Linked DNA regions of Homo sapiens. The protein of the gene in region 3 interacts with the protein of the main gene of each other region in a biochemical or structural test. Each region holds a gene or a part of one and is shown on either strand. Other genes may lie near its edges. The genes, in order: ZCCHC3, RNF125, IFIH1 and USP3.

What was found.
Region 1: the proteins of IFIH1 (region 3) and ZCCHC3 form a complex in vitro, tested with the Homo sapiens proteins (one study listed by BioGRID).
Region 2: of the proteins of IFIH1 (region 3) and RNF125, one has a biochemical effect on the other in vitro, tested with the Homo sapiens proteins (one study listed by BioGRID).
Region 4: of the proteins of IFIH1 (region 3) and USP3, one has a biochemical effect on the other in vitro, tested with the Homo sapiens proteins (one study listed by BioGRID).

The regions. Positions count from the first base shown.
Region 1 is NC_000020.11:293,265-300,570, reverse strand, and holds ZCCHC3 (zinc finger CCHC domain-containing protein 3), read right to left. Parts: upstream 3,002-7,306; 5' UTR 2,985-3,001; coding exon 1,773-2,984; 3' UTR 250-1,772; downstream 1-249.
Region 2 is NC_000018.10:32,070,817-32,073,749, forward strand, and holds the end of RNF125 (E3 ubiquitin-protein ligase RNF125), read left to right. Parts: 3' UTR 1-2,403; downstream 2,404-2,933. UniProt on the Homo sapiens protein: E3 ubiquitin-protein ligase that mediates ubiquitination and subsequent proteasomal degradation of target proteins, such as RIGI, MAVS/IPS1, IFIH1/MDA5, JAK1 and p53/TP53.
Region 3 is NC_000002.12:162,315,674-162,323,178, forward strand, and holds the start of IFIH1 (interferon-induced helicase C domain-containing protein 1), read right to left. Parts: upstream 3,012-7,505; 5' UTR 2,635-3,011; coding exon 2,182-2,634; intron 1-2,181. Other genes in the region: GCA (grancalcin), read left to right, coding at 3,462-3,566.
Region 4 is NC_000015.10:63,500,740-63,507,592, forward strand, and holds the start of USP3 (ubiquitin carboxyl-terminal hydrolase 3), read left to right. Parts: upstream 1-3,853; 5' UTR 3,854-4,000; coding exon 4,001-4,091; intron 4,092-4,978; exon of another isoform or gene 4,979-4,997; intron 4,998-6,853. UniProt on the Homo sapiens protein: Deubiquitinase that plays a role in several cellular processes including transcriptional regulation, cell cycle progression or innate immunity.

The DNA.
Region 1 (7,306 bases), on a different chromosome or scaffold from region 3:
ATGTTTCACTTCCTCTAACAGTGATTCTGATTTATTGGAACTGTGTTAGGACTTAAAACCCGTTTTAACAGTGTGCTGATTGTGATGCAAAGGGACCGGCACAACGTAGTAGGTGCTAAGTGTTGCCTGCAGGGGTGGGAAATGTATTTAGCAAGGTAAACAAATGGAGTGTAGGGGAAGTGGGATTGAAATACGGTCTGGAGCTGGGTAACTGTGCATCTAACACTTTGAAAGGAAATAGTGCACCAGTTTTAGCAATACAAAAGATAAATATTTATTCAGAACAAAACTTTTAACAATCAATTTTACATTCTAAGCCACAAGGAAATAGCAAAACATATAGCAAAGGAAAAGCAAACACTAAAAGAAAAGCAGTGTACTGTCTTTTCTACTGGATAACACTTAGTTGGCCCATGACCTCTCGCTTGGCCTATCTCCCAAGTACATTTTAGAGTTAACAGCTCACTCATAATTTTGGGTTAAAATCCATCTTTCTCCTGAGAATCAGGAGTTGCACATGAGCTCCAGCTAGCTGCTTCTCTAGGGTTCGTAGCTATTGAGGCTAAGGTGCAAATGTAAACCTTTGGTAGGTTTCTTTACACAGGGGCACCCCCATTTCTCACTGGTGGCAATGAATGGGGAAGGGGTAGGGCCTCCAAAGGACCTGGCACACTGTAATCCAGAAGTGGTGCCCCAGGGAGCAACGAATGCACCCTGGAGTGTGGTCCTTGGTCCGTTCCGTATCTCCCAAGTATTCAGAAGCCCCTCCTTAAAAACCTTCTCTTTCTGCTCCCTCCTCCAGGTGATTTCTCAGCATTCCTCTGGGCTGATCATTCTGGAGAGATCAGACTTTCTGGGCCCTCAAGTGTTGAGGAAATTGTTGTGAAGTGTGAGAGGTAGTGGAATGAGCACCGGGCTTGGGGTCAGGGGACTCTACTATAGGCTGGCTCTGGCACCAGACAGCTATGTGATTTTCACCCAGTCATTTAACCTCTTTGGGCCTGTTTCATCTGCTGGAAAACCAGGGAATTGGTCCAAACCAACTCTCAGGTTCTTTCCAGCAGGAATATTCTAGATTCCATGATTCTATAAAAAATGGCTTCTGAGCCACCAAAAGAGCTGTCATGAAGTCCATGCATCTTTGTGCCATAAGAGAGGCCCTTGGCCACCATTCAGAGCTTATTGATTCAGATTATATACACTTCTAACAACACTGGTTTCACAAATTCTCAGACCACGTAGATTAAAAGCAGCAAATTAAATGAGGGAGGGGAAGAGCTGCAAAAGGTAGACACTCTGATAGAAGCCACAGTCAACAATGTTTTCAATTCAGCAAACACTGATGGAGTGCCTACCACGTGTTGGGCCCCGTACCTAGTGCTGGGGCATAAAGATGAGCAAGGCAGCCCAAAGGGTGAAAATCCAGGGGAAGAAAAGGTATGGGGCGGGGAGGGCGGGAGGGGGGCAAGGAGAGAGAGAAAAAGTACAAGAAACAAAACAAATACCCAATAGAAAAACGAAAATAAAATTTTAAAAGGGAGGGGCAACACATCTGCACGCTACAGTTCTCCGCAGTCGTTATTGGTGACAGAGTCACCAATTCAGAACAGGCTGAAATGGAGTAAACTCGGTTTAAGAAGGCATAGAGAGATGTCTCTTGTAGGTTTTAAAAAGATCTCCTTCAAAAACGATAAAAAATGGTTTAAAAAAAAGTTTTGGCACTTAAGAGGGATAAGCTGGCTGTGTGTTCACCCTGGCAGGCAGGCGGGTGTTTAGTGCCCGGCCACGCCGGTTAGCTGAGCTGCCACGGAATTGTGCACTGCTTTGGGACACTGGGCAAAGGCGTGTCCTCGCTTGCCACAGAGGTTGCACACGATGCCCTTCCGGCAGTAAGGGCTCAGGTGCCCCTCCTCCCCGCACCTGAAGCACCTGTCCTGCGTGCAGCTGCCGCTCATGTGGGTCCGGGAACCACATTTAAAGCATGTCTTGGGCTGCCCCTTGTACCAGCTGTAGCCCCTCTCGGCCCCCAGGAAGAAGGCCCCTGGCAAGTGCCTGACCCCGCCCTCCCCCTGGCGCAGCTCGATCTCGCATTTGTACTCCCCGGTCCAGATCCCAAACCTGTCGGTCACTTTCACCGGCACGGCCAGCACGTCGCAGTGGCGCTTGAGCCAAGTCACAATGTCCTCCACGTCCACCGTCTCGTTCCGGAAGAGGATGAAGAGCGTCTTCAAGCTGGACTTGCTCCGCCCCAGCACCACAAAGTTCTCCCAGCAGTCCTCCTGCTCCCGCTTCTCCTCGTAGACGCGTAGGAACAGGGCCAGCTTCTCCGCTGAGCGGAAGCTCACGTCGAATTCGCGGCTGCCCGGGATCTGGATGACCGCGTAGATGTCGCTCGGGTCCATGCCGATGGAGCGCAGGATAAGCGCTCCTACCACGAAGTCCCGGGTCGGGCAGGCGCCCTCGTCTCCCTGGAAACAGATGCGGACGAGGAAGCGACCCTTGCCCGGGCCTGCCGCCGCCGCCGGCTCATCCTGGAGGGGCCGCTCGGCCGCGTCCTCGGCCTCGCCGGGCCTGGCCGGGGTCGCCATGGCGGCCGCCGCCGCCTCGGCCTTCTTCCTCCTGCCCGCCTCCGCAGCGCCCTTCTTTTTGCGGGGGTCCACCGCCTCGCCGGCCGGATCTCTCCGACGGCCCTTCGGATCCCCGCGGCCAGCCGGTGGGAAGTCGCCGAGGTCCGGCGCCGCCAGGCCCGCGGGGCCGCCGAGCCCGGCGCTCCCTCCACCGCCGCCGCTTTCCTCCTCCCGCCGCGGCGGCCGCGGCTCGCGGAATTCGCCCTTCTTCTCGGCTAGATTCTTCACCACCTGGGCCCAGCCCATCTTCTCGCGGCCGCCGTCGGCCTCCTCGCCCCGGGCCGCGGGCCGCGCGGGGGGCAGAAGCTGCGGCCGCCCCCGTTTCCTCTCTTCCTCCGCGCCGCCGCCGGTGGCCATTTTACCTCCTTCCCAGCATCCTCCACTCGCTCCCGCAGCCAAAGGGCGCCCATCGCGCGCGCCCGCCCGCCGGGGCTGTGTGGGTTTGGTTTTTTTTTTTTTTTGAAATTTGACGCTACCCTCCCCCGCCGCGCCCTCAAAGGTATCACATGCGGCGCATATTGGCCAGCGCCGGCTCTGCGCCCCCTGCGCTGAGCCTCTCTTCCGCCAGCGCTCGCTCCAACCTCACCTCCGTCCGCAGCGGGATGGGGCGCCCGGAGGCGGCCCTTTCCCCAGCGCGGGTTTGGCAGCCTCCGGCCTCGCTCTCGAGGATTTGGCGTTTCGCAAGCGGTGCTCGACGATTTCATGCTAGCAGCTTTGCTAACGGCCCACAGCCCACAGGCGGGACGGAGTTCGGCAACATCTCTCCCATTTTTTCTTTTTTGTACCTTTTCTGTTAAAAAAGCAAAAGCAATAGCAAAATTAAAACTTAGCTTTCCGTTTCCCCAGAACTGACTGCAATGCGTTATTTTTTTTCCCACGTCGGATTATGCACGTTTTCAAGAAGAAAAGTTGAAAGTTTTACAGTGAACATTTTACCATTAACTTTTTATCATTAAAATTTTACTCTGTCACACTACGCCTCGATCCATTCATCGGTCTTTATTTTTTGATACATTTCCAAGTAAGTCATATTGCATTAATTTTTATTTTTTTGAAAAGACTTTCGTCGTATTTAGGATGAAGTGTGAGTGCTGCTTAAGTTCCCAGTACTGTGTTAAGCACACTTCAGACTTTATTACATGGAATCTTCCAAAAACAATGCTGTAATTATGCCCATTTTACAGATAAAGAGGCAGGAGTTAAGTCACTTGGCGGAGTTAATAGGCAGCCCCACGTATAGGTAGCTTATATTTCTTTCTTTCTTTCTTTTTTGAGACGGACTCTTGGTCTGTCGCCCAGGCTGGAGTGCAGTGGCTCAATCTCGGCTCACTGCAGGCTCCGCCTCCCGGGTTCACGCCATTCTCCTGCCTCGGCCTCCTGAGTAGCTGGGACTACAGGCGCCCGCCACCACGCCTGGCTAATTTTTTGTATTTTTAGTAGAGACGGGATTTCACCGTGTTAGCCAGGATGGTCTCGATCTCCTGACCTCGTGATCGCCCGCCTCGGCCTCCCAAAGTGCTGGGGTTACAGGCGTGAGCCACCGCGCCCGGCCGGTAGCTTATATTTATTTAACCACTTTATTTCTGACGCCGTGGATCAAGAACTGTGCATCAGATCCTAGGAAACCTTGTTAACAGGCAGATTCCCTTCATCCCAACTGCTGGTATTGGTCTCAGGGGAGCCACTGACTTGGGCCGTTTGCACTTTCCAGTCCTCTCACTTTATATCCTCAGGCACCATTTCCTTTATCCCTTCTCAGCCACGCATTCCCGTGATCATACTCGGAACTTCACCATTACCAGAAACATCAATGTCTTAGATTCACATACTTCTCTGTTATTCTTTCTACTTGCCTGGTCAAGTTTCACCATGAGGAGAATACTTACACAACCAAACAATAGATGTATTTTAAACAATCTCTTCCATTCCTCTTATCTTAAGCCCTCACTCCAGGTAACTATCACATAATCAAATATCTGCAAGGGTCAGGCAGGTGCCTTAAGTAGAAGATATACTGGGTGAACTGGAGATCGAATATTCTATCTGAAGGGGCAACTGCTAGTCAACTGTAGCTGAATATTCCTCTCCAGAAGTGAGGGTCCACTGTGGGGGGATCTTTCAGTTTCCAAAGAGAAATCTGAACTCCAGTTTCTTCTTTTATGGGAAACATTCTTCTCTCTCTTTCGTCTTCTTTAAGATGGTCTCAGCTATATTTGGAACCTCCATATAAATTTCACAACCTGCCTACTAAGTTCCAGGAAACTATGAGATCTTAATTGGCGTTGCACTGCATTTGTACAGAATTACCACTTTATAACACGGAGTCTTTCCATCAATGACCCCACTTGATTTCTCACTTATTTAGGCCTTATTTTATGAATTTCAATAAAATATTATAGTTTTCTTCATAAAGGTCTTACATACTTTTGGGGATTTATTCCAAAGTACCACGTGGTTTGACTGCTATTGTAAGTGAAATTATTGTAAATCAGAAGTTACATATGGTTTGTTGGTGTCCGTTAGAGGAAACACGATTGAATTTTGTGTACTGACCCCATATCTGGCAACAAAGTTGAAACCTTAAAAAATTTCCAGTGGTTTTTGGAATCTCTTTACTTTTCTGTATTGCCAATCATATCGTCTGTGAATAATGAAGGTTTTGTCTCTTTTTTCAAATCTTATACTTTTTCTTGTCTTACTGCACTAGTCAGGAACTCTCATATAATCAACGTATTTTGAGCATTTTTGTTTTGTGTTGGACTTTAAAGGCATCTGTCTGTATTTTGAAAATATTTGACTTGTGGATTAGGTTCTGGCTCCATGTCCAATTTTGCTAATCATATCTTCTTCTGTTGTACAATTTCATTGGTATGTGTAGGGCCATCCTTTTGGTCAGTTTCATTTTTTCCAGGTCAAATTTTGCAGAGATTATTACATCAGGAGCTACAGGGGCCAGGCAGGTACCCTGCAAGGAGAGCAGTCCGGATGGGCACTGAGGCCGTATGGAGAGAGCAGCTCTGGAGGGCTGTGCAGATGATAAGAAGGAATGTCTAGGATCTTGTTATGTCGAGTATAGCAGGTGTCTCCACAAGAACCACGGCATCTTACCCAGTGACAACAGTAGGGATTGTGGGTTTAGGATGCTGTGCACATTTGCCACAAAGCCAGCACATCAAATGACATGGATGGAAGCCCGAGACTGCCTGCTCAGCCTAGTCCACCTCTCAGCAAGATGTTGATGGAATCAGAGCCCAGGTTGCCATTGCTGAGCCTGGAGCCAAGCAGGCCTGAGAGGCCCTCTATCACATTTATCACCTCACATGTGCAGGGAGGAAAGGCCAGCTCATCTTGCCCACCTATCCTGGGGGCAGGAAGTTCCATCAGGTGTTCGTGAACACAGAAATGCCACCTGAACAGGTGTAAGTGCAAATGGACCCCATCTGATTCAATCCCAGTTCCAACAGCTTTGTTACAGGTGATTGTCAGTGGCCCCTCAAGTGTGTTTTGGCTTTGATTAAGATGGCAGCATTTTTGCAAATGTTTTTATGTATTTTTTTTAAAAATTTGAAGTGGGGCCAGGTGCGGTGGCTCACACCTGTAATCCCAGCACTTTGGGAGGCCAAGGCGGGCGGGTCACCTGAAGTTAGGAGTTCGAGACCAGCTTGAGCAACATAGAGAAACCCCGTCTCAACTAAAAATACAAAATTAGCCGGTTGTGGTGGCGCATGCCTGTAGTCCCAGCTACTCGAGAGGCTGAGGCAGGAGAATCACTTGAACCCGGGAGGCAGAGGTTGTGGTGAGCCAAGATCATGCCATTGCACTCCAGTCTGGGCAACAAGAGCGAAACTCTGTCTCAAAAACAAAAAAAAATTGAAGTGGGAGGCAGTAATATTACTGGTTAAGTACCTGAGATGTGGGGCACAGGCAGCTCTCAGTGGGTGTCCATGCTGGGTCAGCATGTCTGATGAGGAAGGCTGTCTGACAGTGGCCAAGCTCTTCTTTGTATTAATCAAGGTACAGGTTAAGCTACTGTAACAAAGGGACTCTCAAATACAGGGTCTCAGACAAGGTGGAGGTTTATTTCTCTTTGATGAAGCAGCTCGGAATTTGGCAGGCAGTAAGGACAGGTAGGTGACTTTCTCCTGCAAGGTTGTCAGGGACCCACCCAGGTTCCTTCTATCTTGTTGTTCCTCCAGACGTAGGGTTCAGTAAAATGCTTTTGGTCTGCAAGTACCAGAAAACTCAACTCAAATTTGCTCACCCAGTAATGTGATTTCTTATTTAATCTCAAGTATTTTCTAGATAGGTGAAAGGTTAATTTAATTAATTAATTTCTTTTAGAGACAGAATCTTACTCTGTTGCCCAGACTGGCGTGCAGTGGCACAATCATAGCTCACTGCAGTCTCAAACTCATGGGCTCAAGCAATCCTCCCACCACAGCCTCCCAAGTAGCTGAGACTACAGGTGCACATCATCACATCTGGCTAATTAAAACAAAATTTTTTTTTTCTGAGATGTGGTCTCACTATGTTGCCCAGACTGATCTCAAATGCCTGGCCTCAAGCGATGCTCCTGCGTCAGCTTCCCAAGTAGCTGGTATTACAGGCACATACTATTGTGCCAGGCTAGGGTTGGTTAATTTAATGGCTCAACAGTGCTATCAAGGAAGAAGGTTTTT
Region 2 (2,933 bases), on a different chromosome or scaffold from region 3:
GCCTCAGCTTCCCGAGTAGCTGGGATTATAGGCATGCGCCACCACGCCCTGCTAATTTTGTATTTTTAGTAGAGTCAGGATTTCTCCACATTGGTCAGGCTGGCCTCAAACTCTCGACCTCAGGTGATCCGCCTGCCTCGGCCTCCCAAAGTGCTGGGATTACAGGTGTGAGCCACTGCGCCCGACATCCCAATTTTTAAAATAGTTATACTATGTCAACATTTTCAGAACATACTGGTATAGCATACTGTACTTTCTTCCTTTTATCCCCCATTTATTCTTAGTTCTTCAACTATATATTTAACACTTGCCCCCAGTTTTGTTTTGTTTTGTTTTGAGGAGGAATCTTGCTCTGTTGCCCAGGCTGGAGTGCAGTGGTGTGATCTTGGCTCACTGCAACCTCCGCCTCCCGGGTTCAAGTGATTCTCCTGCCTCAGCCTCTCGAGTAGCTGGGATTACAAGTGGGCACCACCACACCCGGCTAATTGTTGTATTTTTAGTAGAGATGGGTTTTGCCATGTTGGCCAGGCTGGTTTTGAACTCCTGACCTCAAGTGATCCACCTGTGTTGGCCTCCTAAAGTACTGGGATTACAGGTGTGTGCCACCGCGCCAGGCAATTGCCCCCAGTTTTTATTTGATGGCTCTGACTGTTTCTCATATCTGACTCTTTAATTATGAATCCAGGGCATAGATTAGTATCTCCATCTTGTAAGGATGCAAAGAAGCCATGAAAATAAGTAATATCAACTCCTGAGGATAAAACGTTACTTGACTAGAGTTAGCTTTTTAATTGTAATCATTTATAAACTTCTTTGTTCCTTACATATAAGCATAGTCATAACCATGGTACCCAAAATTTTCTATAAGTTATTGTAACTCCTTAAAGGTCTTGCTACAGTTCTTTTATCCAGTACAAATAATTGGGAAAATGTAAAGCTGAATGAAATCTAGTGAGCCTCATATCCTCCCTTTTAGATATTGATTTTAAGTTTGCTTTTCACAGCTGCTAAAAAGTAACAACTGATTTTTAGTTCCACAACCTCTCTTTCTTCAATTTAGATGGATCATACAATAAAGCAAAATCTGGCTGGTTACAGTGGCTCACACCTATAATCCCAGCACTTTGGGAGGCTGAGGTGGAGGGTCTCATGAGCCCAGGAGTTCAAGACCAACCTGGGCAATATAGTGAGACTCTTTCTATTTAAACAAAAACAAAAACAAACAAACAAACAAACAAAAAGCTGGGCATGATGCACACCTTTAGTTTCAGCTACTAAGGAGGCTGAGGTTGGAGGATCACTTGAGCCTAGGAGGTCAACACTGCAGTGAGCTATGATCATGCTACTGCCCTCCAGCCTGGGCAACAGAGCAAGACCCTGTCTCCAAAAACATAAATAATTAAATATAAATAAAAATAAAGCAAAATCTGTTGGGAAACGAGAAAAAGGAGAGGAATTTTTCAGGAATAATCATAAAAAGAAATGATCATCAGACTGAAAGTCCAGAGCCTGAGAAATGAAAACATATTTTTAAGCATTGGTGTTGACCATGCAGACAAACTTTTGTTAATTCAGAGCGATACAAAAGGCACTTTGAATCTATAAAACTTGAAAAAGTTAAAAATTGTATGTCGGATAAAGCTTTAAGTCATCTGTCACTATTAACCTCAGTGCAGCAATTCTGACTCCTGTGCCTGGATTCCTTTTATGATAATTTTGCCACCTACAGGACAGATTAGGTGCTGGTCGCCTGAATTATTTTGTGTTCTGAATTATTTTGAGCTCTAAAATGGTAAAGTACAAATACTCATTGTTTTACTGTGCCTTTGGCCTTTTATAAAAAGGTATTTATAATTCGTTGATAAAAACCAATATTTGAAGCTGTTGATTACCAACAAAAAAGTTTCACTCTCTTTATAGTGCTTCAGGATACAACTTTTTCAGGGCCTTATTAGAGAAAAACTGATTCACATGTTATTCTTCTAAAGCTAAATTATTAAAATGTAGGTTGAAAGATTGGATTGATTGTGAATCTACACTAAAGATATGGTTCCAGGCAGACCTCCTTAGAGACCTCCAGGCAGACCTCCTTACTGTCTTCAGTGATGTTTAATTTCATTACTGTTACTGGGTGCCAAGTGTCTTTCATTTGGAAGTGAACTTACTCCAGTTATTGAATGTTTATCATATCATAATTTGCATTTTTCCAACATTGAAGGTATTTTAAAAAGTCACTAAGAGATTCATTCTTTTATTATTCAACTACAAAAAAATAGTGTAATGATCAGAATTTAAAATGTGTGATTCTTTTTCTTCTGTAAGTATGTATTGCTATGATAAATAAAAAATGGCAGGACCATTGTTTTTATTAAAATATCTACTGTGTCTATTCTTAAACATTAATCTTGATTACTATTTTACTCAAATTTAATAATGCTTTTTAAATTTTCATCATTGAGCAACATCTATCACAAAGGTGTACATTCATTTAGGCCAGTACTTCTCAACTGGGGGTAATTTTGTCTCCCAGCAGACATTGGCAATGTCTAGATACATTTTGGGTTGTCCTAACAGGGCTTGGGTGTGCTAGTGGCCTGAGATCTAGATACAGGTCAGGGATGCTGTTCAGCATTCTACAGTGCACAAGACAGCCCCTTGCAACAAAGAATTATCCTGCGCAAAATGGCAATAGTGCCTAGGCTTAGAAACTCTGATTTGGTCAACATAATACTGAGCACTATGGATTTATTATTTGTTCTGCTAGCAAGAGGCTTCACTGAAATTTAAAAGGTAAGATGTAGATAGATTCTTCCCCCTGCTAAATCCATACTAAGTTTTGAATGGCTGTAGCTGTCATGCGTACCCATATGTCATGAGCATATTAATTTTTTGATTTTTTGCAAGAACACATACAGGACAGAACACAAGTGTTA
Region 3 (7,505 bases):
AAGAAGCCAAGATGGACCTCAAATCCATGTGTTCCCCTTCTACAGTCTTATCACACTTTGCTGCTGTAAGATAAACATTTGTCAATGACCACCACCTCAATATAGATTATTCTACCAAACTTAATGCTTCCGTCTCATTGTCCACCATATCTTAGTTTTGGAACTGATAATACATGTAAATGATGCACACAAAAATTATTCCACACTCTCACAGAGAAACTATTGCTTCCTAGAGAGCCTCAAATTTATAGCTGCTCAGTCTTTTGGGGCCTCCTTTGAAATGTGAATCAGAGGGAGAATTTGGGTTGTTTTGGCCTTAACTGCTACCAGTACACAAAAGTCCCGTTACTCTATATCTTCTTTGTGTCAAATCCCTTGCATTACTGCTAGCTGCCTCCAAGCTTGCCAGAATCAAGAACTTGGATAAAATCTAGCTGGCGGAAATTCAATCCAGGCAAGACAAAAGTGATGCTGATAGGCAGAAGTATTTAGAGTAAATAGGGAGAAGTGCTGTTTCGCTGGCAATCGGGACATCATACCCACCAAACATAAACAGCTTTGTGGTGTTACTGGACTCTGTTGCTTCTGGACTTCTAACAGCTACTGTGGCTGGAAATGCCATCTTCCATCTCCAGCTGGCTTGAAGGCTGCATACTTTCTTCCAAATTAAGATTCTGCCACAGTGATGTACACATTTGTCATATCCAGCTGGACTACTATAATGCGTTCTAGCTGGTTCTCAATACACAAAACGACATAAACATTACAGACAACAGTGCAAAGTAATTTACTTGTTGGGAAAACTGGCCATCAAAATTAGATGCATGTTTGGGTCTTTGGACAGGCCCTGTGTCTGTCAAGTCTACAAAAGATCACTAACTTTATTCACTAAAGACTAAATTGCATCATAGGCTATAGCAAATCAATCAAATGCCCAGAAGTTTGTATGAATATACAAACAATGGATGACCCAAAAGAGAGAGAGAGAAAAAAACCATGTGAAAATCATAGAGTGGTGTAGACAAAGCCTTTGACTTTTAGTCATGGCTTTATTTGTCTACATGTCTTCCAAAACAAGACTTTTGACTTACGAGCCTGAATAAGTCACATTCAAACAGGTCAGCATTTATACACATCACAGTACATCTTCACTTATCAAAAAATAATTCATATCACATTCAATGTAAAGTCATCAGTAAAATTCGCCCTGTCAAAATGCTACCTTAAGAAAAATGAGTTTCTTCACTAACATGAAAAACTGAAACTAGCAACACATTCTTTCAATGAATTGTTTCTAAATTTTGATTCTCAAAGAATGTTGAAACTTTGATTAAAGAAAAAGGGTGTGTGTGTGTGTGTGTGTGTGTGTGTGTGTGTGATTGCAATTTACCCATTTGGGCTAAGACTAAATGGCACAAAGTGTAATGTAGGGCAAAGATTGGAAAACTTTTTCTCTAAAATGCCAGATAATAAATATTTTTGGCTTTAAGGGCACACAGTCTCCATCCAATTGCCTTTGGAGTAGAAAAGCAGCCACAAGCAATATGTAAACAAACGAGCATGACTGTGTTCCAATAAAACTTTATGAACACTGAAAATTAAAAATTGAAAAATCTGAAGACCATTCTTAGCCTGTGGGCCTGAAAAAAACAGTAGCAGGCTTGATTTAGCCCATGGGCCGTAGTTTACTAACCCCTGCTCCATGGAACTACATTAAATAAGAAAAACATTCAACACTATCACAAGCTAAATTCTTAGCTCTGCCACTGTTTTTCCTGGGAGACCTTGGACAAATTATTTAACCTGCCTCAGGTTTCTCATCTGTAAAATGGAGTTAATAACATTAGGAGCCTCAGTGGGTTACTCTGAACATGAACTGTAGTAATACATTTTGAAAATGATACCAACTGCACATAGTAAGTGTTCAATAAAAGTTACCTGTTAATACACATTACGATTCTAGAGTTAACTCCTTTTTACTTCAGTGAAAACATTAGAAAAGTAGTTCTTTTGTGTTTAAATTTTTAAAATTGTCTTAAAGTGCCTAGATGTTGTCTTCTCAAAGGAAGAAACTAGATTTGCCCAAAGAGGTCAAGCACATTTGGAAAGGGGCAAACGCACAAGGAAGCCTGCTTTGCAAAATCTGCCTAAAAGGCTAGCTCCATCTGAACAGACACCTACCCGGTTTCTGTCTTCAATTGTCAACAGTTCCTCCTCCATGCACTTATCCAAGACGTCTCTAACTAGAAGCTTGTCCACCAGAGTGGGCTGAAGGAGGTTCAGCAGTTGGAGATATTCATCATGAGCGTTCTCAAACGATGGAGAGGGCAAGTCCGTGAGCTCAGGGTTCATGTAGCGGGCGGCCAGAGGGCTGCCGGTTCTCCGGAGGGCCTCCACGAATTCCCGAGTCCAACCAAGGTGCCAGACTCCCTTCTCCAAGGTGCTCAGCAGCAGTTCAACTGCCTGCATGTTCCCGGAGGTGGCGACTGTCCTCTGAATCTGCTCCTTCACCTCTGCAGGCAGAAAGGTCAGGTAGTCCAGCACAGGCTCCACCTGGATGTACATTTTCACCCTGGCCCTGAAGCACGAGATGAGATAGCGGAAATTCTCGTCTGTGGAATACCCATTCGACATCTTTCTTTCTCAGAGAAGGGAGAGGGTTCTCCCAAGCAGATGGTGCTGTTGTCTGCGGGACAGGTGAAATGTGCGTGCCGCTGTCCGCTGCCCACTTAGAGAAGCAGGGTCTACCGCTCTGTGCCTGACAATGACGAGGTTGTCCACAGGGCTCTCAGGCCGGCGCGCGGGGCTGCACTCGCACCTGGGCAGGTGGGCAGGCGGGCAGGTGGGCAGCGGGGCGGCGCGCGGGGCCGCGGCAGGCAGGTGCGGCCGGCAGGCGCGGCACTTTGGACTCTGCGGTGTGCGCCTGGGGTCCCGGACCGGGGCGATCCTGCTGCACACTCGGGTAGGAGCTTTGAGTCCAGCTTTCTGTCAGGCAGTTCTTACAGAGTTTGCCTGACTTTGGTTTCTGTTTCGATTCTCTTCTCAGGACTTTGTAAACGTAATCTGCCTGGCGGGGAGGGAGTTTCCTCAGGGAGACGCCACCTTTTGGTCGGGGCGGGTGAAGAGAGGAGGCCTTTGGTTAAGGACACCGCGGGAAACAGAAAAGGAAAGCGAATTCTCTCTGACACCAAGACCAACGCTCTAGCAAAGCTCCTCCGGCGGATATTTTGTTTTCCCAGCAGGTTCTGCCTTAACAATAAGGTCCTTTGTAGGCCAAAATGTGCAGGGCATAAAAGCATGTGATTTGGGACTTTCCAAAGGGGAAGTGAACAGAAACTGCCACAGACCCGGACGTGAACAGGGAGTTACCCTCGGCTGGTGAATGTAGGCAGGCCTGGCTGAGGGTGGTGAGACTGCGAGGGACAGGTGAGAGATGAAGCTCAGAAGACATCTTTGCAGAGATGTGGAGAAGACAGGAGGAAGTCCTTCCTAAAATAAACCTGACCTCCTGTGGGTTCCCAAACACTAACTTGTTTCCCTGGGAATTTGGAGGTGGGTTCGAAAAAGTGAGTAACAATAAACAGTTAACTTTACTGCCTCATATTTAGATTGCTGGTATTTATGCAGCTTTGACCAGGACCTGGTAACAGATGTGGATGGACTTGAACCACCAACTCAGCTTAGAAGGAAGCCAAGACTTAAAGTTTCCTAGATCCCAGCTTGTAAGTTCCCTATATTCTTTAATATACAACTTTCCTTTAATAAAACAAAACAAAAAAATCCCCCAACAACTTATTTTTGATATAGCTGCCATTCTTTTCTTGGATTCAATACAGCAAGTTTTGGCTGGAGCAGCTAGGAACTTAATTAGCAACTAATGTACCAACTTGTAGTAAACATCAACATTTGTCTATGTCATGAGAGAAAAAAAACATATTCACACTGAAAAATGGCAGCTTCATTTTGGTACAGAAGCCACATAAATGTGAGTCCTTAAGGTTACTACTCATTCTGAAGGCATTCTGTAGCCACATGTGACTGTGGGTGGTAGGCACATACGCACCATAACTAGAATCTCATGGTCCAGAATTATATAAAGGATGGAGAGATCATTTAGGTTATCAAAGAGACATATTTAGGAAAAATAATCTGTTAGCAAAGTACATTCAATAAAGTCTGTGTAGGCCAGGAAAACCTGATAGTGCTTTGAACAGGATAATAGAAGTACAGAGTCTTGGTGAGTGTTTACTAGGGGCATACAAAATATCCAAATGAGCACTTTATGGTAACATGTCTTATTTTATTCTCTAATTATCTTATGTAGCAAGGCTTTTTCTACCCCTGAAGGATTGTAAGCTGCTTGAAGAAGGGATATATTTACATAGTAACTAGTACACTACTCACAACTGGTGGGCTCTTGATGACATCTCTCCTGGGAGTTGTATTTGAGTTGACCATAGCAGCTGGCATAATGTTAAATACACTGAAAGTTGAAGTAAATGAAACCTTGGGCTTGCAGGTAGGCCTGATTTATACTGTTCTTTTCTGTTTCTTCACAGAACCCTACTCCTTTTTCACTTAATTTTGGGAGATGACCTTGTACCCAGATAGAGGATAATCCAATTAGATGTTTCTACAAAAGCACTCAAATTATTAATTTTAAGTATTGGGTCTATGAAAATATCTTTTAAGGCTGTTGCAAAAACATACTCCTATCCCCCAGCTGCCAGTGGGTTTTATTCAACATGTTAAAGCACAAACTAACAAACCAAAAAACATTCTTTTTCCTGGCACTTATCCTTCTGTTTCTTGGTTTCAAACATGGGGGAATGAGAAGGGGTTGCTGACTGAATATGGGGAACCAGTTAATGTTATTTTCTTCATACCACTTAATTGTTGCTCTGGAAGAGAAAGGATCAAATGTTTGGTATTTGACCTGTTCTCAAATAATAAACATTTAAACCAAAGATATTTAAATATTTGGCATTCAAATTATATCATTCATTGTATCATCTAGTCATTTAAAATATGTTTATTAAGTATCTATTACATGACCAGCACTGATCTAGGTGCAGTTAATAAAATTAACAAAGCTCCTACTTTTATGGAGTTCACATTCTAATGGGAGTGGGAAGATAGATGGTAAGTAATGACTAAAAAATATGCAATGTGCAGGTGAGGATAAATGCCCTGAAGACCATAGTAAATCTACATAATAATGTATATTACAGTTTCACAGGTTGATTTCCCAAATAGTCATCCTCCTCTAACCCTATTAGCATCACATAATACCCAACAATAACAATTCATATTTTCTCACAAGTAGGAGTCTCTCTGCTGGATGAGGTCTGAGTGATGAGGATTAGGTGTGGGTGGAAGGGACTTCTTTTTTAGGAATCTCCCATAGTCTTGATGGGACCCTTTTTGGAGAAAGGAGGTTAAGGAAACAAAAGCCAAGACACAATCTCTCACAATGTATCCTTTTTTCATCTATATTTTTTGCATCATGATTTAGTTTATTTTCTGTTTTTCACTTGAGTAATTAATTGTTTTCCTCTGTCAAGTTTCTTCTACTAGGTTTCATTTTAATCCTTTTCACCAGTTCCCAAATGTAAGTTTCTTTTTCCTTTCTCTTTTGAGGCAGGAGATCCTGCTGAACTATGTATTTTCCCATTGTTATGCAACTTTTCATTTGAGTTTTTAAGAAGTAGTAACAATATGAGCTGCCACTACAATTTAACGACCATGCATAGCAATAATGTCTTTTTCAAAGAAAATGACAATAATTTTAGTTTAGTGAGAAACCCTGGAATTGTTGTTCTGTTCCTTTACTTGTTTGCTCATTTGTATCAATAATGAGCCTGCTTTGTGTAATTTAAAGTGTTAGATGCTCTTAACCTGGCAGTGTGGGGTATGGTTAAGCACAGAGACTCTGAGTTCAGGCTGTCTGAGTTCACATCTCAATACTATTTCTTAATTGCTGTGCTTTGAAAAATCACCTCAAATACATCAGTTGTAAAATGGAAAGATTCTGGTATCATGTCAGAAGTTTGTTCTAAGGATAGACTGTAACACACTAGCACCAGCCTGGCATGTTTATGTGCCCAATATGTGACTCCAGCCCACTACGCTTATATAAAAATTAAAGAAGAGATGGTGCGGTGCTAGTCTTCAAAGAATGCACAATTTATAAAGGAAAAATTTAGTTACATATATATATATATATATATATATATATATATATATATATATATATATATACACACATACATATAAACACTATATAATAGCTAGCCATTTAACTGAGACTTTAAGCAAGACTTTCAGCCATTTAACTGAAACTGATAGGCTGATTTAGCAGGAAAGTTTATTAAAAGGATACTGTCGTAGCTTTTTATTTCAAAAATAGTAGTAAGCCTAAAATAGAAAAAAAATTATGGCTAAGTTCACTAAATCTTGATAATAATTTCCTAATCACTTTCACCAATTCAATTAAAATTCTGGTTTTTAAGTTTTCACATATAAAAACTTTTCTACATAGCAGTTTTGGCAAAAAATGAAAGTCACGTATCAATAGATAAGTTTTGGAACATTCATTTTTCAAGTACTCCTTCCATAGCTTAAAGTCTTTTCAAAAACAGTTACCTGCAAATGTTTTTGTGAAAAACAGTACTTTTACCTCAAAGGCTAGATTGTAATTGTTTTATTTTACTTTATTTATTTATTTATTTATTTATTTATTTATTATTATACTTTAAGTTTTAGGGTACATGTGCACAATGTGCAGGTTGGTTACATATGTATACATGTGTCATGCTGGTGCGCTGCACCCACTAACTCGTCATCTAGCATTAGGTATATCTACCAATGCTATCCCTCCCCCCTCCCCCCACCCCACAACAGTCCCCAGAGTGTGATGTTCTCCTTCCTGTGTCCATGTGTTCGCATTGTTCAATTCCCACCTATGAGTGAGAATATGCGGTGTTTGGTTTTTTGTTCTTGCGATAGTTTACTGAGAATGATGATTTCCAATTTCATCCATGTCCCTACAAAGGACATGAACTCATCATTTTTTATGGCTGCATAGTATTCCATGGTGTATGTGTGCCACATTTTCTTAATCCAGTCTATCACTGTTGGACATTTGGGTTGGTTCCAAGTCTTTGCTATTGTGAATAATGCCACAATAAACATACATGTGCATGTGTCTTTATAGCAGCAAGATTTATAGTCCTTTGAGTATATACCCAGTAATGGGATGGCTGGGTCAAATGGTATTTCTAGTTCTAGATCCCTGAGGAATCACCACACTGACTTCCACAATGGTTGAACTAGTTTACAGTCCCACCAACAGTGCAAAAGTGTTCCTATTTCTCCACATCCTCTCCATCACCTGTTGTTTCCTGACTTTTTAATGATTGCCATTCTAACTGGTGTGAGATGGTATCTCATTGTGGTTTTGATTTGCATTTCTCTGATGGCCAGTGATGGTGAGCATTTTTTCA
Region 4 (6,853 bases), on a different chromosome or scaffold from region 3:
GAAGTGAGAGCTGGGTGGTTGGAGCCCACACCCACCCCTCTCCATTTATTTAGTCATTCAACAAATAGTTACTGAGGGCCTGCCACCTACCAGGCTGTATTCCAGGGGCTGGAAATCAGGCAACCAACAGCACTGGCAAGATCTTTGTTCTCATGGAGACTGACAATAGATAAGCAAGTAAACATGCAAGGAAATATTAGATAGGTGCCACTAGGAAAATTAAACCAGGCAACAGAAGAGTCTCTGAGCGGCAGCGGCCCATTCCCTGCCCCCAACACTTACCAAGCCTCCTCTTGATATAACTTTGGTTTCCCAAGGAGGCGTTGCTCCTAGAACAATCTCTATGGTAAATATTAATAATTAAGCCATCTCTCGGAGTGTTTCCAATGAGCCTTCCCTGGGTGAGGATAGTCAGAGCTAGTTTTCCCCAGGGCCTGGTCTGCCTTGTAATTGTTGGTTAAGGACCATCAATTCTGCCAAAAGTCCTAAGTTTAAGGTTTTAGGAAAATCGCGGCAACCTTGAGACCTTTCCTGAAGTGGTTCCCCTGCAATATATGACCTTGCCCTCCCCTCACTACCGACCCCACTTCCATGTATATACACAATTATCCTTTAGGAGAGAAACATTTGATAGTACGGTTGCAATTTTGCATTCCTCCCCTTTGAAAAATGCAAACTTTTAGAACAGGCCCGCCGCTTCGGGCAGGTTTTGCCGCGGAAACCACCCTCCCTCCCCGCCCCCGGATGTCCAGAGGGCTGGGTGGGGAATCCCGGGAGCAGCGCACTCAAGAGCACGGGAGCTGGAGGCTGGAGGCTGGCTCGTCACCATCAGGGCTCCCTGGGATGTAAGTCAGAGCTCCTCAGTGCCAGAGGGATGCGGGCCAAGAATAAAAACGCGAATGTTGTATTAAATGCAGCTGAAGAAACGAGGGACTGAAAAGGCAGATTTCCCAGTGTGCCTCATGGTCTTCCCCCATTTGACTCATTTACTCACTGCGGGTTTCTTTTTCTCCACTCTTTTCTTATTATGGAAACTTTCAAAGACACAGGAAAGTTCACTATTTTAGGGAAATCTAGCAAACGCCCCAGGAGGGCCTCTCTGATTTTGCCCAACTTCTCTGGACTGCCTGATAGAGCTTGCCCTCTGGGGACTATCACAATCGGGACTAAATTAGGGCCCCTGCTCCCAAGGGTTTTTATTCTAGCTGGGGAGAGAAGTCACTAATGGAAACTTTTTTTTCCCTTAAAATAGCTTACACCTTACAAAGCACTTTCACATTCCTGATTCCGTTAAAATCATAAAGCTAGAACTGAAAGGAAATTTAGAGATCATCTCTAGGGGTCAAATATTGGCAAATATTGGGCCACCTGCTAGGCTCTTGCCCATGGTAGACATGGCTAACATACCGCACACTCACCCGTTCATGTCATGTATTCACTTACTTATCAGACATCCTCCATGTTCTACATTGCATGTTAGAAATAAAGCAGAAAACCAGACAGACTTGTTTGCTACCTTATGGACAAACAAGAGGAAGAGAGACATTAAACAAATAATTACACGCATGAAGAGTGTTTTTAGGCCGGGCGCGGTGACTCATGCCCGTAATCCTAGCACTTTGGGAGGCCTAGGCGGGAGGATCTCTTGAGCCCAGGATTTCGAGACCAGCCTGGGCAATATAGGAGACACTGTTTTTTTTTTTGTTTTGTTTTTTGTTTTAAGTGTTTTTAAAAGCCGGTGTTGGGGCAGACAAGGACATCACACACTGGGAGGTACCCTGCGGGTGGGAAAGGGTCGGGAAAGACTCCCTCAGGAAGTGATGTTTAAACTGAAGTCTAGGGGATTAGGAAACGGAGTCTCTGAGAGGGTGAAGAAATATTACATACCAGTATGAAGCATGGCCTGAGTGAGGTCATGCTCCAGGGCCGAACAAGGGGTTATGGATGCTAAGTGGGGGTGGGTGTCCGGAGGAAACAGAAGGTTGGTGGAGCAAGGCCTTAAAGACAAATAGGTTGACATGGAGAGATGGGTGGAAGAACTTGAGCCAAGGGCAGATATTATTGTTTCTCCTCCTCCCGCTTCCCAGGGAAGCAGCTCTCATCTAGTGTCAGTAAAAACAAATACAAAGTTATAATTTATTGGCCACCTAGTATGTGGTGGCAATTTTCATGAATTCTCACATGTTCCTTGCGAGACAAGTATTCTTCTTCCAGTTTTACAGATCTAGAAAAGGCTTGGAACGGCTAGAGACGCTTGCTAAGCCTGGCCGTCAAGTAGGCAGCAGAGCTAAGATTTGAAAGCATGCCGGCCTGCCTTCCTAGGCAGACGCACTTTCCACAACGCATCACTGCCATAAAAATCCCAGGCCGAGGCTTGCTCTAACAGCAAATACCACTTGGAAAAGGACAGATCTTTGAGGACCCAGAAATACTTCTGGGGAAAGGATGAGCAGAGGTGCCCCCGGTGGGTGGATACCATTAGGCAGAGGTCTATGCGGAAGAGGCCGACTTGTGGCGTGGGAGGTAGGGAGGAGTAAGAAGTGATTGACGGGGCGTCCCTGGCTGCTCTAGGACTGCATTGCGGGGAGGTGCCCGGCTCTAACCACTGCCCGGCCCGGTTAATCATTTCCTGACCTTCCTTCCTCCTCTCGCTCTGGCCGCAGGATTGCCACATCAGTCTTCCCCCTCCTCCTGCTCGCCTTCTGGCCCCGAGGCTCCTTCGCCGGGTTTTACAAGGAGCCCCAACTTGGAAGCAATATTTGTAATAGCCCCGGACGTCCTCAAGTGCCCCAGTGAGATCGCAGGCTCGATCCAGGGTATGCCGGCCCAAGCGGCCCCTTGAGGCTTGCCCTCTTCTCTAATCCCTCACTAAAAAGAGGTCAGAGGGTCAGGGATCCAATCTCCATACAGATCAACAAGTTACAGACTCGGTTTCCCCCTGCGGTAAAAAGGGGATGGTAACAGCTGGTAGGGTGTTGCGAGGCTTAAATGCGGTATGGGAAGTGCCTGGCTGGGAGACCTTAGGTATCTAACAAATGCTAGATCCCTTCCCTTCTTATCGCCTGGTAATGGGGAGTTTAGCTTGCCCAGCAATCCCAGGCTACGTTTATCTCACTTGAACTTCCTGGCTTGAAAGTCCTACGATGTGCTGGAGGTAACGCAGATGGTGAGTCACAGTGACAGGATTTGAACGTGGGTTCATGGGCGCCCCTGCGGGCCCACCCACGCAGCATCTAGGTGGCTGGCTAACGCCACGTGTTCAGAACCTAGAAAGGGCTACGGATCGCACCTGCCGCAAGGAGCCTAACGCTAAGTCGGGCGGGACTGCCCTGGCACCCATGAAACCCGCTGCCCGCCTCCCCCGGGGCCAGGCCCTTGGCCTCCCCAGCTTGTTTCTTCGTGTATAAAATGAGGGCCACGGTGCCTGTCTGCCCGAGAGGTTTTAAAGTTCTTCTTTACACTTTGCGGAGCGGCCGGATTTTTACCACGAAGCCACCGAGTAGTCCGCACCACATAGGTTCAGTATCCTCCGCCCACCGCAGGAAACGCCGCGGACGGCCCGGGGTGCCCTGCTCGGCGCCCCACCCTTCCCGGGGCCGGGGAAGCGGCGTGACTAGGAAAGTCACTTCGGAACACAGCCGGACTCTGCGCCACCAGCTGGAGCTCGCCGGGACCCCACCCCGCGGGCTGGGCGGGGGCGGACCCGGGGGCGGGGCGGGGAGGGGCCGGCCTGGAAAGGCGGAAGCCTCCAGTCTAGGGGTGGCTGCAGAACCCGGATCTCGGAGTTACACGTTCTACGGAGCGGGGCGCCGGGAGACGGCGGGCGAGAAAACCCGGCGTCCGGAAGCCCGTGCTTTCTTTGACGCAAGGGCTCGAGACGCAGCCGCCGTCGGCCGAGCGCCCGGCTAGAAGCGACACCAGACGGAGCCTCCGGAGTTCCTCCGCCCCCACCTCGCCGGGTCCTGGAGCCGCAGTCCTCCCAGCTGCCCTCCTCGTGGCCATGGAGTGTCCACACCTGAGCTCCAGCGTCTGCATTGCTCCGGACTCAGCCAAGTTCCCCAACGGCTCCCCGTCGTCCTGGTGCTGCAGCGGTGAGTGCGGCCACGGGCCGGCCCCGCAGCGCACCCGAGGCCGCGGCTCTGCCGGGCCTGCCGTCTAGGGGCCGCAGGCGGCCGGCGCGCGGACTCGGGGAGGGGCGAGGGCGAGCCGGGCCCGGCGGGCTGGGGAGGGTACGCGATGAGGCGGGCGCGTGCGGGAGCGGCGGCGGCTCCTTTGTTTCCCGAGGCCCGACGGCCGGGCCAGCGAAGGAGAGGGCCGCGAGGGGCGGGAGTCCGCGGAGGCCTCGAGCGCGTGGGGGCAGCGGCAGGCGGGGACCCTGGCCAGCTGCGTGCGCCCTTGCCCCGCCCTGCCGTGGCCGGGGGCTGTGCCCGTCCGTGTTGCGGGGTCGCCTGTGGGGCGGGTGTCCGGCCCCCGAGGGGCGGCCGCACGTGTGGCGGGGCCCGCGCCGCGCTTCTCCGCAGACAGGGCGGGAAGAGCGCCGCTCTCCGGGCGCAGCTTTGTCTGGGCTGCGGGGCGCGCGGGGCTCCTCTCCTCCGCCGAACCCGGCCCGGGTTTCCTTTCCCTTCTCCGCAGGCTCGGGCACCTCGAAACCCCGAGAGGCGCTGGGAGCTCGGGCGGCGGAGGTCGGGGTCTTTCATCCGTCAGGGATGGTGAAGTTTGAAAACAGGCTGCGGGCTGAGAAGCTCGGAGGCTGAGCCAACAGCTGCTTTGGAGGGGACTGCTCGAGTTTGTTTTTCAGACCTTTTGGGTTGTCCGAAAATGCGTTGGGATTCCCAGTTCCTGTGTTGTGAAACACTTATTAGATTTATATAAGGCTTTTGAGTAGCTTAAGCGTTTTAACTCCTGCTGGCCCCCTTGGAAGCCCCAGTGCCCTCTCATTGTCTGCTCTAAGCGACTTCTTAGGATCGCACCGGCCACACGGCTTTGCTTACTTCCTGGTAGGGCCCTGGTGCCACCGCTAGTCTTTGTTTATTAGCTTTGAGATGGTCACTGGTATCTTGGGTTATATTAATAGCGTACAATTCGAATTGTGCACTTCAGAAATCTGAAGTTCATTTGAAGAAATATAGAAAAACGGCAATGGTATGATTTAGCTGTGACATGTCTCATTGTGGGCCGGAGCTGGGAAGATAGTTTAGAGAATGCCTTAGCACTTTTGACAGCTTACTACTTAAATAGTGATTATGTTCTTGGAAACAACATCGGTAGGTCCACAAAGAAAAATGTACTCTGGGATAAGGAATAGAAATAACTGCGGTTTCCTGGCGCGCTCAGACGTCTGATGCTTTGCTTGCCTTTGTAAAGTCAGGTATCTTTTTCTGCATGAAGCCTTTGAAAATTAACGGTTAATTGGTTTCACAGAGCAGTATTGCAGTTCTTTTGTGAGGATGCAGAAACTTGTGTAAATTAGCTTTTACCTGTAAATCTGTCGGGATGTTGAGTATAGAACAACAAATAAGGTGTATGGCACTGCTTTACAAATTGGTTGGTGGTGGTACATTAGCTATAACTGTAGCCATTGCTGTGGTGCTATAATTGTAACTTAATTTTTTTCCCAAAAGAAATTTGAAGAAAAAAAAAAAGACCAAAGTAAACACTAGGAGAAGCCTACCTCACAGGGAATGGTGGGATTGCTCTTGCTCATCTGTAGTAAACTACAGAAAGACAACATGGACAATTAGCACACTTCTGGCATTTTTTAGGTAAAATCACATCAAACTTAAAAATGGCTTCACTGGGCACATACATCTAAAAAATGGAAAAGAACTGTGCAAGTGGCAGATGCCCTCTTGTGAGTCAGTCTTGCCTCTGTCAGTCAGGGAGTCCACTTGACTGTGAAAAAGAGATGCAGGAAATTGAGCATCTCTTGAGGAACTTAATAAGTTAAAATGGAGCATAACGAGATGTGCTGATAACAAGAATAAACTAGTATGTGGGGTGATTTCTGTTCAAGGGGTAGGATGACATCTTTGCATCTTGCAACAAAGTGTGTCTGACATATAGCTTTGCAAGCCTGGGTCTAGTCACTTACTTGGATTTGTAGAACCAATAAAGCGAGTTTCGCAACTTTGTGTGAGTCCACACTCTGAATTGAACCCATTTTATGTAGGCCTCCCGTCTTAACCCGTTGGCATCCATTTGTTGATATAATCTAGCGTTATTGTATTAAGCTTGATCTTGTTCTTGCGTGCCTGTCGTTTCAGTGATTAAATGATGAATCTGTGAGTCCTTAACTAACTCATTATCTTGGAGTGTTATATAGTCGTATTTTTTTTCTCCCACACTCTTGATTTTATTTTATTTTTGTTTTTTTCATAGGGGACCAAAAGGGTAGCCGATGTGTTGACTAATACTGTGACTGGGTATTGAATCTGATTATGTTCTTATTAAGGAGGGGAAAATCCCTGTTTTGGCACTGGGACAATAAAAGTAATGCCCTTGCCTTATTTTCTTTGCGAGTTTGCAATTATACCACGGTAAGACAGCCAAGCAAATTGCAAAATGCCACAACATTCTAGGTTCTACCAGTTAGCAGTACCTAATTGGACAAATAGTTCTATTTTCTTTGAGTATCAGTTTCCTTATATAATCTGCAAAGAAAAGGGTAATACTTTGCATTTACTTCACAGGTTGCTGTTAGGATGAACAAGGTAATTTTTTGTGAAAACTTTGAGAAACTTGTATACACTGTTCTAGTAATAGGTGGTATTAGAGGTCAGAACATCTTTGTAAAGAGGACTCTGAATAATTAAATATCCAAAGCCCATTAAATGGGGACTAGAACAGACTGGCT